Regions from separate parts of the Homo sapiens genome. Here region 1 is linked to region 2. Evidence: fine-mapped expression QTL. A gene starts in region 2. The other region holds a variant in brackets. All regions are shown on one strand. Distances are from middle to middle.

Region 1 (8,121 bases), 41 kb after region 2:
CCCTAGCATGGACGTCGCCGCTCCTGAGGCCTTCTGCAGGTTTCTCAGCCGGTTGTGGCACTCGCTGGCACCTGTGTTAGGGGCTCCCCACACCCTGCCTGCTTGCTCGTCTGTCCTCCGTAAAGGGGAAGGGCTGAATGCTGGTCATCTTTTCGCCTATTCCCACCCAGCATCTAGCACAGTGCCCAGGACCTGATGTGGCCACTAGGCAGCCCACAAGACCCCATGTTTGAGGATTTTGCACAGAAAAGGGAGATGTCTTCCTGACAGAGTTGGCTGGGCTAAAATTTGCGTCTGTCCCTGGAGGTCACTTTCTTCCCAAAGGCTTGGCCTCTGGATTATGGCTGCCTCCCCGCCTGCCTCCCCGCCTGCCTCCCCAGGGAGCACAAGCCCCACTCCTTCACTGGCAATGTGGCTACACATGCTTATCTTTTTTTTTCTTTTTACTTTAGCACAACCAAGGTAAATATTAAATATTTGAAAGAGAATAACGGGAGCAGTGGGGAGGATAAACCAGAGACTTGGACCGAGAGCCTCAAGTCCATTCATTTTGTAGATTGAATGTTGGGGCCTGTCCATGGCTGCCCCAGTCTGCGGGCTTGTGGGCCCCACCCTGTTCCCATGCTCTGGAATGCCTCTGAGGTGGAACTGGGGATACTTTTTTGCAGGGGGGTTTGCTCCCAGTTTCCAGTTTCCAGGTGGCCTCTGAGTGGAGGGCTCCAGCTCACCGTCCTCTGGGTGGTTGTTCATTTGTCCTTCGATGGTCAAGGCTGAGGGAGGTTACACCGGGGGCTTTGCAGTTCCAGATTCGGGTCTGTGGGATCTACCTTTTCCCCTGGTGGTGGACAGTCTTCCGGAAACTGAAACCTGATTGAACTTGCTTTTCAGTGAGAGCTTACACTGCTGTAGGAAGAGGTATTTCTTTGTAGGAGTCCTGGCAGCTTGACAACACAAGGACCATAAGAGGACACATGTGGTGTGTTAGTGTCTCTCAAGTGCTCAACGATGTTGAAATAAACGGAAAACGCAGGGCCTTCCAAAGTGACTGTTTTGAGGCATTTTTAGATAATTGTATATCATTAAAGAGTGGTTAGTGTGAAAATTGATTTAGTAAAAGATTAAATAGTAACTATTTTCTTAAAGCTGCATATATGCCTGGTATTAAGCGATAAAAACTCAATTTAAGGCTGGATGCGGTGGCTCACGCCTCTAATCCCAGCACTTTTGGGGGCCCGAGGCAGGTGGATTGCTTGAGATTAGGAGTTGGAGACCAACCTGGGCAATATGGCAAAACCCTGTCTCTACAAAAAAATACAAAAATTAGCCAGCATGATAGCACGCACCTGTAGTCCCAGCTACTTGGGAGGCTAAAGTGGGAGGACAGCTTGAGCCTGGGAGGCGGAGGTTTCAGTGAGCTGAGATCGCACCACTGCACTCTAGACTGGGCAACAGAGCCAGACCCTGTCTCAAAAAAACCCAACCCTCCCACCCCCAAAACTCAATTTATCTTGATCTTTTTATTACAGTAGCATTTTAAAGAGGGTGCTTCTTAATCATTTTGAATTACTAAACATCCAAGTACAATTCTAGGTTTTTTGTTGTTGTTGTTGTTAACTTTTGTCTTCCAAAAAAAGAAAAAGAGAATGCATTCTGAGGCACTTGTTTAAATAATCAGCTTCATTATTTTATATTAATAATCACACCTTATAAGTGAGTTGGAAGTCTGCAAGAGACATTGCTAAGAAACCAGAGCAGAAGAATTTAGCATGATCCTCTTACCATTATTTTAAAATTAGCAATAGCATAAGGTCTGGCTGCAAAAGACTTAGATGCTAACTGGCAAGAAAATCAGTCATTAGGGAAACAGTCTGGAGAGGGCTCTCATAGCAACACAACCATATGTGACAGCTCTGCTTCCCCTTTCTGCTCTACCAGGTGATGGCAGCCAGATAATCAGATGGAACTTGCTGATGAGGGACACTAGGAAGGTCAAATCAGGGTGGTCTCCTGGACTTAAGCAGCCCAGGTGGAATGGAAGTCTTAGCAGAGAGGCTGTATTTAATGTCAAGTTACCCTGGGTGCCCTGGGATGATGACTCTTCCGCTGAGAAGTTTGGCTTTCTGTGGGGCTCTAAGTGACCTTAGGGAAGTGTTATTCTCAGGCTGGAGAAAGGAGCATGGAGGAATGAGGATTAGGCGACATGGGAATGAGTGAAGGGACTCAGCTGTCCTCCATCCTCTGGCCCTGGGGGAGCTTTTTCTTTCAGATACTGAGAAATGGGTTGAGCCCATGTGCCTAGTGCCACCCCATGTCTCTGGGGATGCCTGAGGGGCAGGGGCGAGGCTTATGTTCTGAGTCAAGGCACCTGAGACATTGGAGTCAGCAGGCACTGGCTCCTAAGCATGCAGCTGGTTCCTGTGCCTGGGAGGATTGCTTTAGCTCAGGGGTTCAAGACTAGCCTGGGCAACAGGCTCTTAAAAAAATAATTAAAAAAATCAGCTGGGCATTGTGGCATGTGCCTGTAGTCCCAGCTACTTGGGAGACTGAGGCAGGAGGATTCCTTGAGCCCAGGAAGTTGAGGCTGCAGTGAGTCATGATCGCCCCACTGCACTCCAGCCTGGGCAACAGAGCAAAATACCCTGTCTCCAAAAAGAAAAAAATGTGAGGGGCCTTTGTGAGCACTGGGGAAGTTACCTCATGATACAGGCCAGAAAACAACTTAAAAGATGATCCCAGACCTTCAAGCCCTAAGTTCTTGGCCACCCTGTCAGTGCCACCTCACTGGTGACCTTTTTCCTTGTCCTCCCACAGCCACTGGGATGCTATCCAGATGCATCTGATGAACCCCAGGGAGGAATTAAAACATGGCCCTGGAAGGGAGGAGAGGCTGCAGTATGGCTTCTGTCTTGGTCAGCAAGCAGTTTTCCCATAATAATAATTAGCCATCATAATGAGGCAGCACGTTGCAGAGATGCGGAGCTGGCGAGGATGAGGAAGCTGCAAAGGAACTGTGCTGAATGGGAGGCACAGGATCTCCTGGGAGAGCAGAGCCTGGTGCAGGTCTGAGGGTTGGGCTGGGCTTGGCTCAGTGGCTCCTGTCATGCCTTAAAGGCAGTCCTGAGGCGCACAGGAAGTGGTGCGTGATCGTAGGCTGAGCTGTTCAGCTCACGGCTTGCAAAGCCCAGGTCTTAGGAATATCCCTTCCTGAGCCAATTAGCTTCCTACTTGCCGAGGCAGCTGCTGCAGCTTTAGCCCAGCCTATCCTCTTGCAACCTCAGGCATCAGGTGAAGGATCAGTGTTTGGAGGGGACGGCAAGTGCCATTGCTTATTAGAGACTCAAGTCACACCAGACATGACTGAGGAGGTGTTGGGGCACAGCGTTGCTTGCTGAGGACAAACTCCTCGAAGTTTCCTGCTAACTTTTCACCAACTGGTAAACGTTGAATGTTCTGGGTAACTGCCAAATTTGTGGTTCAGAAATGGAAAAAGTGCAGAAAAGCTGAAAGTGACTTTAGCAAAGAGGCAGCTCCTTTGGCTGAAGTGCTTGGCAGGGTGGACGTAACTGACGCAGCAGGACAGACACGCCTCTCTCCTCAGCATCCCCTGTGGGTGGCGTCTCCTTGGTCCTGGGTCTTGGGTTAGCCCCGCAGCTGGATCCGGTGCTGGTGAGGCTCCTGTCCAGGTGGCCTCACTCTAGCAGAGCAGACTGGGCCTTGTGGGTGCTTACCATGCCCGGGATCCCCCGTGGAGACTTTATACCCCAACCCAGGGCAGGAGAGCTTTCACTTAAAATGTTTTCCTTGAGCCCCACCTAGAATCACAGAAAGTCGCCAAAAGTCATGAGAGAGCACAGTCTACCCCGTCGTTTTTCAGTGGAGGGGAATGAGGCTTAAAGTTGCTCAAGG[C/A]AGGAGTTTCCAGAGCAGCACGGCCCCTCACTTCCCGTCCTGCTGCAGGCTGGATGGGATGCAACCGCACCCTTCAGTAGCTCATAATTTAGCTGGGACCATATAAGAGAAATAAAAGAAAATGACCATGGCCCCACTTTTATGAAGTGCCTAACAGAGCTTCTTTTATTCCTATTCAAGTCCTCCTCATTCTCCAGGACCTGGCTCCTGGCAGCCCTCTCCATAAAGCCTCTCCATGAACCCTTGTCAGTCTACAGCTATCCTCTGTGGCATTGCATGACACACAAAGCCACACCGTCCTGTAACTTTTTTTTTTTTTTGAGATGGAGTTGAGTTTTGCTTTTTTCGCCCAGGCTGGAGTGCAATGGCACGATCTCACTGCAACCTCTGCCTCCCGGGTTCAAGCGATTCTCCTGCCTCAGCTTCCTGAGTAGCTGGGATTACAGGCATGCGGTACTATGCCCAGATAATTTTGTATTTTTATAGAGAGGTGGGGTTTCACCATATTGGCCAGGCTAGTCACGAATTCCTGACCTTGGGTGATCCACCCGCGTTGGCCTCCCAAAGTGCTGGGACTACAGGCGTGAGCCACTGTGCCTGGTCCTGTAACAGTTTTTTTTAATTAATTATTATTTTTTTAAGAGACAAGGTCTCCCTCTGTTACCCAGGCTGGAGTGCAGTGGTGCAACTATGGCTCACTGCAGTCTCAACCTCCTGAGCTCAAGTGATCCTCCCGCCCCAGCTTCCCGAGCAGCTGAGACCACAGGCGTGTGCCACCACACCTGGATAATGTTTTCTCACTGAAAGTGGAAACAGCCATTTCTGTCTTCTATATTAGCAGAAAAAATATTTTTAAAAACCCGAAGGACTGAACTTTCAGTTCTTACTGCAAAGCCCGCAGGGGCAGGGTTATCTGGACTGGAGGGATGTCCACTCTTTGCTCACAGCCTGACTTTGATACTGTGTTCTCTGTGGTCTAAGGAACTTACCAATGGGGCTTCAGTAGTCTCATATCCTAAACACGTTATCGAGTTGTTTTCATTTTCAGAAATCATTAAGGGACACATTTGACCCACATAGAGACTGGCAGGGTCCCAGTTGCCTGCTAAGTTCTCAGACAGGGCCAGGCTGATGAAAATTCAACTTAAGTCATTAATTGCTGCATAATAGCAATGGTGCCGTTGTGAATGGAGGTGGGGTCCTTAGAAACTGGCTCTGGAGGATGGGGCAGGGACTTGGCTCTTGGAGATGCGGCCATGAGAGCTCCTGGGAATGACATGGAGGGAATAACAGGTGTCTTGACACTAGCACCTGGAGGTGTGTGAGGGGCCAGGATGGACTGCGGATAGACCAGTCAGCGTACCCAGCACAGTCAGCACAACCAGATGGCCATGTGCTCCGGGGCCAGAGGGAGACGGAGGGACACTGTGGCCCAGATGTAAATGATGGATTTGCTCTTTTTGTATTTTATTTTATTTTTTGAGATGGAGTCTCACACTGTTGCCCAGGCTGGAGTGCAGTGGGGCGATGTCAGCTGAAGCGATTCTCTGCCTCAGCCCTCCCGAGTAGCTGGGATTACAGGCGTGAACCACCATGCCTGGCTAATTTTTGTATTTTTAGTAGAAATGGCATTTCATCATGTTGGCCAGGCTGCTCTTGAACTCCTGACCTCAAGCAATCCTCCTGGCTCTGACTCCCAAAGTGCTGGGATTACAGGTGTGGGCCACCATGCCCGGCCACATCTTTTTGTATTTTAAAGTGAAATTTAAAAACACAGGTTAAGGGTTAAAATTATGAAACAGACCTGATATAAAACATGTTATTTTGGGGATAAATTTTCCTGGTTGCTGTTGTGGAGAAGGTGGAATATTTCACCTTTGGTGAAATAAACTAGAAATGTGGTGTTAGTCTTGTCTACCTAACACGACTATAAATTCTTTGCAGCCAGGGCTGAGATTGCGGTGGAGATGAAGTGAGGGTCTGTTTGAGGAAGTCTCTCTCCAGAGGTGTGCACGAAGGACCAGCAGCAGAGTGGCACTGCCTGAAGGTGTCTTTGTGAACATCCCCGCCCCTGAGGATTGGAAATAGAAACCTGGGGTTTTAATTCTGTCCATTTTTGTCATTGTCACAGAGCTCAGTGAAAGCTGACTGGCTACTTGAAAATATCAGGGTTGGAAAGTGGGCTTTTGAGAAAACTTATCAAGCGATAGATCACTGGAGGCTGGGAGGGGCACAGGATCAGGTGCTGGGGAGCTGAGACCGGCAGACTGGAAGGCTCTTGAGAGTGCAGGGCTCCATCTATTTACCATGCCGAGCAGGAGATGGAGTCCCGGAGGCAGGAGGTGGCTTGCCAAGGCCATAGAAATAGAGTCAGGGCCAGGTTTAGGACACAGCTCTGGCCCCTCAATTCCACAAATGCAGAACTGTGATGCTCCCAACCCTTGGAACATAGCTTTGTAAAACCCAGATTTTTCTTTTTTTTTTCTTTTTTTTTGAGATAGGGTCTCCCTCTGACAGCCAGGCTGGAGTGCAGTGACATGATCACAGCTCATTGCAGCCTCAACCTCCCTTGGCTCAAGCGATCCTCCCAACTCAGCCTCCTGAGTTGCTGGGACTACAGGTGAGCACCACCATATCTGGCTATTTTTTTTTTTTTTTTTTGGTATTTTGTAGGGTTTCACCATGTTGCCCAGGCTGGTCTTGAACTCCTGGGCTCAAGAAATCCACCTGTCTCAGCCTCCCAAAGTGCTGGGATTACAGGTGTGAGCCACCATGCCTGGCCTGGCCTGTTCTTGGGTGTGAAGGTATCTGATGTGCTGGGCGGCCTGTGCGTGGGGTTCTTTCTCCAGGGTTGGAGAGGGATGGTGCGGAGCCCTTTAGCTGCTCCCATTCATTTCCGCAGAAGGTGTTATGTCTTTGAGAAGAGGGAAACAGTGGAATCTGTTTCAATCAATATTTATTTGGATAATCACCATCTGGCTGGAGCTCCCAGGCCCTCACCCTACCCATCTCTCCACTTCTCTGGCTGCCTGCCAGTGGATCCCAGTTACAGGCCTGGACCTCAAGGGAGGGTGAGGACAGTCTCAGGTCAGAAGGAACAAAACCAGGCTGTCTTGTCCTGCTCTTATGTCCAGGCAGGCATGTCTTTCCTCCAGTCCACGGTTTTCAACCAGAGGTGATATTGCCCCCCAGGCATGTGTGGCAATGTCTGTGCACTTTCGGTTGTCCCACTTCAGGGTGGTGGTAGATGGGTTGTTACTGGCATCTAGTGGGTAGAGGCCAGTAACATCCTGCAGGCACAGGACAGCCCCCACAACAGAGAATCAGCCAGCCCCAGATGGCCATAGTGCTGAGGCTCAGAAACCCCGCTCCAGGCCTGTTCTTTATGATTTTTTGGGAAGAGGGGTTTCCCAGCTGCCTTCTTCCCCTACACAACGTGACAGCAAGCCACTGCGGGGCCTGGTTTCACCTCCTACCTCAATGTTTTCTCACTGAAAGTGGAAACAGCCATTTCTGTCTTCTATATTAACAGTAAAAATATTTTTAAAAGCTGACTGTAGTTTAAACTGAATGTCCTGGGAGAAAGGCAGGTTATTCCTGTGAGGAAGAGATGGCTCCTTTTGTTCAGAAGTACCCTGTAGTCTGTTTGGTTATTAACGATGAGGTCCTTAGAGAGGGGCCTGGGTAAGTGAGAGCTGGTCAGAGATGGTACACCAGGAATCGTTTCTGAGTCTTTTTTTTTTTTTTGAGACAGAGTCTCACTCTGTTGCCCAGGCTGGAGTGCAGTGGCATGATCTTGGCTCACTGCAACCTCTGCCTCTTGGGTTCAAGTGATTCTTGTGCCTCAGCCTCCCCAGTAGCTGGGATTACAGGTGTGCAGCACCACGCCCAGTTAATTTTTGTATTTTTAGTAGAGACGGAGTTTCACCATGTTGGCCAGTCTGGTCTTGAACTCTTGGCCTTAAGTGATCCGCCTGCCTTGGCCTCCCAAAGTGCTGGGGTTACAGGCATGAGCCACCCCACCTGGCACACTTTTGAGTCTTTAAGGGCATCCTGGGAGAGATGAGGCCCAGCGGTGAGAGGGAGAAGAGACTTCCATGGCCTATGAAGACGTGCGGAATTATTTTTTGGTGGGAAATGGCCAATGAATATTTAGGAAAATTGATGTTCGACATTTAGTGTTAGGTTACTTCGCCCCAGTGGTTCTGTTACCCT
Region 2 (8,121 bases):
GGCTGTTATGCAGCAATAGGTAATGGAAAAACCTCATATCCACCTCATTTTCTCCAAACTATTATACACGTTTCATTCAATCAACAAACCTTTCTTGGATACCTACTCTTTGCCAGGGTCTGTACAAAGACAGAATATTTACATTCATGGATTCTGCATTCAGCTGCCACTACTGTTTCCTTACTGTTTCCTGCCACTACTGTGTCCCCCTTGCAGAGATAATAAAATTCATAGTCCTCATCCCTCTGCAAATGGTGCCAGCCTGCTGCTCCACTGCCACCACATCAAATTATTTTGTCCTCAGACCCAATCTCCATTCTCCTTTCTTTATATATCCTTATGTTGTCTCTTCTATCTGCAATGCTTCTGCCCTGCCCCACCTCCAACGTTCAAGGACCTGCACTGAAATCTCCTTCCCTGGCAAGGCCCTCCAAGACTCCTCCGGTTGAAATTAACCAACACCTCCTCGTAATCCCACAGCACTGACTGCAGACTGCAGTTTCTGTCTGCCCACCGTCTCCCTCAAAACTCACTAGACTGTGAATCCCTGGAGGAGGGATCCTGGCTTATCCCTCTTGTCCCCCAGCAGTGTCTGGCACAGGGCCCAGTACTTAGAAAGCCCCCAGTAAACACTTGTCGATGCAACTAGTAGCAGAACCAGAATTAGAAGTCAGATCTCCCGAATCCTAGTCTCCAGGGCCTTACTTGCTTCTTTTGACACCACAAAGGCAGGGAAAATGTCCCACCAAAGGTGGGGATCAGGTTGTCCAGAGAAGACCTTGGAATGGACCAGGGGTTGGCAGGATTGCTACATGTGGAGCTGCAGAGGGCGATGAGTGAAGAGTGTCCTGGCTCTTGGCTAGGGGTTTCAGGCGGGTTCCTTCCATCCTTTCTTCCTTCTTTCTTTCCTTCCTACTTCCCTTCTTTCTATCAATAAGCCCTGATCATCCACTTCTGGAGGGGAAACATGCTGTTTCTTTGATTCTTTTCTTCTCCAACTCCAGTTCACATCTGAAAAAAATCTCTATTCTGGGGACCCAGTTGCACAGAAAAACAAAAAAAACCCACCGTGTTCAAGCATCAAGGGACCTGCTCACTCTGTTCTTCCTTCCCCAGGGTTTCCCAGGAACCATTGCTCTGTAACCTGTCTCTCCTGTGCCCAGCCGACTGGAACTGCTTCCCAATCCCCTGTGGGTAACCCCAGGCTCTCCTGGGCCTGACTTTGGTGGTGTCTTGCCTGGCCCGCTCCTTGGGGGACCTCTGGCAGAGTGGGCTTCCATTTCTCTTTCTCCTTCCAGGATGTCCTGGCTCCATGCCTTCGGACTGAGCAGGAGCAGAGAGCAGGGTGGGTAGGATGCTTTCTGCAGACTTTTCTCCCTAAATTGTTTCTTTTTGGGAGCTGGGAGGAGCCTGGATATCTCACTGTAGCCTCTCTGTTCCCTCAGTCACAGGCAGGGTGCGGGAGAGCTCTTCCCAGGAATGGTCTCTGAAATGGCTCTTGGAGCTGAGATGGGGGTGGGGCAGATTCTAGAGGCTTAACAGCCCAGCTCTTGGTATTAGGGTTGGGCACTTTTCTCTTTGTCCCAGATCTGGGGGTAGCAGAGGTGGGAAGTTGAAGGCAGTGGGGGCTTCTCCATCAGCTCATCTGAGGCCCAGAAATGTTGCTTTGGGGAGAGCTTGCCCCCTCTCACCGTTTCTCTTCCTCAGCTCAATTCTTGAGTGTGGGGGCGGCTAAGTGGGTCTGCCTTCAGGCTCTACCCTGAGCCTCCAAGGAAGTCAGAAATCTACATTCAGCTTTGACTTCTGAGTATGTGGAGTGGGCTGGGGGGAGAGAGGGAGAGATCTGTCTCTCCTCAGCTTGAGGGAACAGCTCTCTTCTTGCCTCTGTGCACAGAAGGAGGGCTACCCCGTGCCTGGGCTCCTCTCTGTTTGGGAGGATGAAGGGCTCCTCTGACTCCTGTCTTCCCTTTGGGATAAGAGCAGAGGCCTGTCCCAGCAACACGGGTACAGGAGTGGAGGACAGCTGGCCAGCTCAGATGAGTGGCTCCTTCCCTTCAGGGCCTGGCTCTCCCTCTCCCTTGGTCTGGAGAGAGGGGGAGGCTACAGATGTCCCTTTCCCTTCTTGCCCTCCCATGCCCATTCTCAGCTGCTGGCCTTTGCTCACTTTCTCTCCATCCCCTGGCCTGGACAGGAGGACACTTCACTCACACATGAATCATCCTGGATTCATGGTAGGCAACCCAGCAGCCAGGGGTGGCCTTGGGGCGTGGCGGGGGCTGGGCCAGTCGTGGACTAGGTTCTACCCGGAACCCAGATGTGTTGATGCACCTGATGCCAAATGCTACACCAAGGAGGAGCTTGTGCTGTGGAAGGCCCTGGGCCCCCGGGGGGGTGAGTGAGGAAACTGCTGGCAGTGGAGAGGGCCTGAGGAATAACTGCACAGGCAAGAGCCTCTGGACTTTTTTAGCATCAGCTGTGGAGCCACCTCCTTCTCTCCCACTGGCTGCCTCCCTGAGTCACTGCCCACCCACCAGCAAATAAAAAAGAGTGTCATCTGCTGGCCAGTGGCCCCATTTGGCCCCAGTGTTTGCATCTTTGTGCTCCTGGGTGGAAGGTGAGAGTCCGGGTAGGGTGGTCTCACGACGACAGTTTTCTGCGCCTTCCTCCTTCGGGACTCCGATTCCTTCCCTGCCCTTTGTTCTTCCCCTCCCCCCATGATGGTTCTCGCTGGTGACAAGACCCAGCCCCTGCTCCAAGGACAGAGGCAGCTGCAAGCCCTCAGGAGCCCCCACATGGCCCCATCCATCTAGACAGGTCTCTGATCCGGCTGCAGGGAGGGGACCCTCGGCTGTTCAGCTGCGACTCCTCCCTCCCCGCCCGCCCACTCAGCTGTCAACACTCGCCTCCCCGCCCTGGCCTTCCCGGGGCCCTGCCTGACTGCTAAGTCCGAGGACACCGCGCCCGGAGACCCTCACTCAGACGCAAGCAGGCGATGAGCAGGCGGCGGGGCAGACACCCCGCCTGCCCTTGAGCATCCCTAGGCCTCCTTGCCTAAATAAGGGAGCCGCAGCTGGAGCGAGCCAGCTGGCCGGGGGGAGGGGCCTGCGGCTAGGCCAGGGCTTTCCGAGGGGCTGGGCCGTGGCCGCCGCCGCAGGGCCCCGAGCCCGCCGATTGGGCGTGCAAGGCTGGCCCCGGGCTGCCGGGGGAGGGCGGGCCGCTCGCACCCGGGGATCCCCTGGTTGGAACCTCGCGCTCAGGGACCTCTCTTTGATCCTGCAGCTAGGAGGCCGCAACTGCTGTCAGAATGTCCCTCTCTGTGCAGCTCCTATGCAGAGCCCCACAGAGGGCTCTCTCTCTCTCCGTGTGTGTGTGTGTATGTGTGTGTGTGTGTGTGTGTGTGTGTGTGTGTGTATGTGTGTGTGTGTGTGTGTGTGTGTGTGTGTGTGTGTGTTGGGGCAGGGGGCGTGCCCCTTCTAAGTTTAACCCTCCCTTATTTCAGAGCTCTGCTGCTCTGGGGCCTTCAGATTGTCTTGCTTTTCCTATTTCCAGGGTCTCCCTTGACTCCGGGCTCGTCTTCGAGGGTCCAGGCGTTGCCCCGGTCACCCACAGTAGGCACTGAGCGCGTGCTGTGTATACCAAGCCAGTGCTCGGCGTGGTGGGGAACCAGGGCATAAGGACCCGCCGTTTCCCTTCAAATCAGGTTTCTTAGTCGCTAATCTGGGGTGGGGGTGGAATCCCTTCCCCCATCCCGGCCGCCTACAAGCCGGCCATGGCACCTGTCCTCACGGTTTCCCCTGCCTAAGGGTCCCTTCCCCCTCTTCTGGGCGCGCGAGTCCCAGGGGCTCCTTGGCAGAGCGAGGGGCTGGCGTTGGGGGAGCACTCGGCGCGGCTCAGCCAATGGGAAGGTCGGGCGCGCGCGGTGGGGCGGGATGGGGGGGGGAGAGGGCGGTGCTGCGGGCGCGCGGCAGGCGGGAGGGGGCCGGGAGGCGGGGGCCGGAGCCGGAGGGGCGCGCGCCGCATTAACCCTTCCGCGGCCGGGCCGAGCCGCAGGCGCTGCCCGAGCCGCGGGCGCTGGAGCGGCTGTCGGCGCGGTGGCAGGCGGGAGCCAGGAGTCCGGGGCTCGGGCGGGCGGAGCGCAGCGCGGGGACGCGGCGGAGCGGGCCCCGCGGCTCGGCGGGGGCCGGCAGACAGGTGTGCCGGCGGCGGGCGGCTCGCGCTCAGGCGGCTCCAGGCCGGGCCCGGGGTCCGGAGCGGGGAGCCGGGAGCCGAGCGAGGACCCGGCGCCCGCAGTCCAGTCTTGGCCGCGCCCGTGCTCGGCTTGGCCGCGGGGTGCGGGGACCACGGCCCGGCCGGGCCACCCGAAGCCTAGTGCTGGGCCGGGCCGGGCCGGGGTGGGTGGGGGCCCGCCCGGCCCGCCCATGGGCTCAGGATGCCGGTGCGGAGGGGCCACGTCGCGCCGCAGAACACCTTCCTGGACACCATCATCCGCAAGTTTGAGGGCCAGAGTGAGTGGGGGAGGGGGCTGAGCGGGGAGGGGGCTCTGGGGGCGGGCCGAGCTCTTCCGAGTGTGGATGGGGGGGCGTGCCCGGGCCGTGTGCGTCGGCAAGTGCGAGTCAATGGGGCCTGGTGGGCCCCAGGCTTTGGCGAGGGGACGGCGGGGGCAAGGCTTGGTGCACCGGGGCCGTGGGCACCGGGCCAAAGGGTTTGGGGTTGGGGCTTGGGGCGGGAAACTCAGCTCAGGCTTTTGGGATCGGAGTGTGTGTGACACGCTGAGTGTGCAGGGAAGGGATGTGGGATGGAGTGTGCAGGTGTCCCCAACTCTGGGTGCGTGGACGTGGATGGGGCTGTGTGCAAGGGCATAAGAGTGTGTACGACCCAAACCCTGGGATCCCGAGAGTCCAGCGCGCACACTGGTCTTGCCAGATCTTGACTGTGTTGTGCCGGAGGGACTGAAAAGCCGTGGATGCAGGGTCAGCTCATAATCTCTTCTTGTGTGTGCCGTGTGTATATAACCCTGAGCCCATGTGTCACCCGTGAGTTAGACCCTGTATGGGCGGTGGGGAGGTGTCTTTGACAAGGCTGCGAGCTTGTGGGCTCTGTGGAGACAGGGTGTCCTGGGGCTAGAGCTGGGCTTTGAGGGTAAGCAGCTCCCTGTGGTACCCCCAAGTTGTGGGTTTTCTTGCCCTGGAGACTGTCACCTAATTCCCTTATGGGGACCGGGAGTACAGCACCCCTAATGCCTGCCTGGTAGGGAGGCTTCTAGAAGGGTCCCAGATTAGGCAAATGTCCTGGGGGTGGGCAGCATTCATGTGCCTGTCCCTAAGGCTGCATGAGCCACAGTGGGTGTGACTGCCAAGGGCCCTGGGAGTTGGGAGAGGATGACATTCCTTGTCCATGACCCTGTGAGCACAGGACAACGCGTGCTTGTAACGGTGGTTGGGGGAAGGAGGGGTCAGTCCGATGGTCAGTATTGTGTGAAGCGGAGGAACAAGATGATCCTGAGGGGGTGGAGACAATGACACTGGTTGAGGGCCTCCCTGAGAGGTGGGGGTGGGCCCAGGGGGAGGCTGTGGGCGGGCCTACGAGGAGGCTGGGATGGATGTGGGGGGGGGTGCTGGATTCTAGCCCTACCTTTGCCACTGACTGCCATGTGACCTTGAGTGACTCTTCCCTCTTTGGGTCTCAGGTTCCAGGTCTGTGGAGGAGGGGCAGGCTTTCTGTCCCATCCCTGTATTCCAGGATCTCAGTGAAGGGTGTGTGGTGGGGTGGGGCATGCCTTCGAAGAAACTTGCTCTTCTTTCCCCAGCCTGGGAGAGAGGACAAGGGGTGGTTTTTCTTCTATGAAGCTGGGGTGTGTGGCTGGGCCTCTGGACTGCCTTGGACTGTGGCAGAGCTGGAGGCCGAGTTAGGGGGTCTTTTCAGGTGACAGGAAACCCTGACTCCTGGAATTGATGGCTGCCTGGGAGGTCTGGGGGGCCTTGGGAACTGGCCAAAAGATGAACCAGTTCCAAAAGGCAACTTTCTGGGGGCCAGGGGAAGGGAGAATCGAGAAAGGTGGGAGGAGGCCAAGTCCTGATGGCCTGGGCCTATCTCAGGGTGCCCTGCTGCAGCCCAGCTTTGCACGTAGGATTGCCTAGGGCTGCAACCTGAGGGCTATGCTTGCTGGGGAGGGGAGGGGAAGGGAGGGGGAGAATTCCAACTGCTACTGAAAGCCCCAGCATTACAGGCCAAAGTGGCCGGAAACTTCTGTTTATAAAAAGCTCTTATCCCAGGAGCATCTTGCCTGGCACAAGTGAGGCTGCTGCCTGCCTGCTGCTCACTCGCCAGCCTGGCTCTCCGGGCAGGCCTGGAGTCAGGGAGCCAAGTCTGGCAGAAATGGAACCATGGGGGTGCTCATCCAGGATGAGGCCAAACTGAGGAAGGCCTCACATCCCTGGGCAGGTCCCCTTTCTTGGGTCTGTTTTCCTACAAGTGGGGCCAAAGTCTCAGGCCCCGCCCAGGCTCCAGGTGTGTCCAGGGTTTGGAGCTGCAGGTCCCTCTCTTTGCTTCCTATGACCTTGGGCTTCTGCCTGTGACCCTCAGCTTATTCTTCTGCCTCTGCCAGACCAAGGTTCAAAAGCTGGCTCTATCATTTACAAGCTGCAAGACTTGGGCATGGTGCCGAACTTCTCTGGAGCCTTGGTTTCTTCATCTATAAAAGGAGGATAATAACACCTACCTTATGGGGTTGTCAGAGGACCTAATGAGATGCAGCGTCCTTAGGTGTTCAACGTGTAACTTCCCTCATCCTCTCTGGCACACCCACCCCTCAGCTCCTGACTGCCCTTGGGGCGGGGGTGGTGTGCAGAAGTTCTAGGGGGTACTGACCTGGTAGGATCCTCAGATAATCGGGGAGTGATTTCCTAGGGAGCCTCAGGATAAGGAGTGGCTCAGGGAGCGCCCCCCAGTCTGGAGAGCAGGGAAATTAAAAGCAGAATCCAGAGAGCCGATGCAAAGGGAATCCTGGCCGCCATCTCTGGCCTTTCCCAGGCTCCCTTTCTAGGCCCAGTGTTTATCCCTCCGCCGCGGCTGCTGACACGCGTTGCTGACACCCGCCAGGCTGGCCTCAGCCTCGGGCATGGAGGAGGCGGCGGGCTGCTGGCGGCCTGCCCGGGGGAAGCCACGCAGCCCGCCCGCGGGCCAGGCGGAGGAGGGGGCGCGCCGCGCGGCCCGGCCGGCCAGGCACCTGTATCGGGGCACACGCACAGCTGCGTTCGCCCCCTGCTGGGACCCCAGTCCCAGCCATGCTTCCTGTGGCGGGGAGTCCCCGGGCGGCTGTGTGAGTGGAGAATGTGGGGAAGGGCTGGGAGTCCCGGAGGCTGGGGTCCCCGCTCACGCGCACTCTCCTCCCCGCCCCCCTAGGCCGTAAGTTCATCATCGCCAACGCTCGGGTGGAGAACTGCGCCGTCATCTACTGCAACGACGGCTTCTGCGAGCTGTGCGGCTACTCGCGGGCCGAGGTGATGCAGCGACCCTGCACCTGCGACTTCCTGCACGGGCCGCGCACGCAGCGCCGCGCTGCCGCGCAGATCGCGCAGGCACTGCTGGGCGCCGAGGAGCGCAAAGTGGAAATCGCCTTCTACCGGAAAGATGGTAGGAGCGGGCCGGGGCGGGGCCACGACCAGGGGCGGGGTCAAGAGGGGCGGGACCACGGCGAGGGGCAGGGTGCGTGGGGGTGTGGGGGTGTGGGGGCGGCTGGAGAACGCCCCGAGCCCGGGCAGGGTTCTGTGGGGGTGTGACGCGGGCGGGGGCCCTGCGGTGTGCCTGTGGGAGGCGCGGTTCCGGGGCCTGCGCCTCACTCTGCTGAGATGGTTTTCAGGAGGGCAAAGGAGTTGCTAGGCTGTGGGTCTGGCTCCTCTGGTCCTTTTTTTCCCTGGGCAGGTGTGGGCACGTAGAGCAAGTTGGACTAGAGTTAGACCGAGCTGGGATGGCAGGTACGTGCGTGGATGGAGGTTAAAGGTCAGATTGGCAGTTGTGCGCTGACATCCGGGCACAGGCCCCTATCTACCTTAGGGCAGTTGCTGCCAGGTGACAGGTCTGGGAGATGTCATGGAGGGACAGGAGGGCTGCAGGACTCTGGCT

The links. PIP is the estimated chance that this variant, and not a neighbour inherited with it, causes the effect.
Region 1: its variant is fine-mapped to the expression of KCNH2 in whole blood (INTERVAL, PIP above 0.99).

Annotation. Positions count from the first base shown.
Region 1 is chr7:150,933,442-150,941,562 of GRCh38, reverse strand. No RefSeq gene overlaps it. Among named protein-coding and RNA genes, the nearest start is that of KCNH2, 41 kb to the left of the region's middle. The variant C/A (reference allele first, on the strand shown) is at 3,907.
Region 2 is chr7:150,974,222-150,982,342 of GRCh38, reverse strand. It overlaps KCNH2 (potassium voltage-gated channel subfamily H member 2), which reads left to right and starts at 4,022. Exons shown (of 15, transcript NM_000238.4): 1 at 4,022-4,505; 2 at 7,402-7,632. The coding sequence starts at 4,430. LOC124901776 (a long non-coding RNA gene) reads right to left here and starts at 7,025. Exons shown (of 3, transcript XR_007060592.1): 1 at 6,868-7,025; 2 at 5,632-5,807; 3 at 4,988-5,498. RefSeq lists silencers at 3,005-3,354, 7,128-7,277, 7,668-7,717, 7,818-7,887 and an enhancer at 5,724-6,650.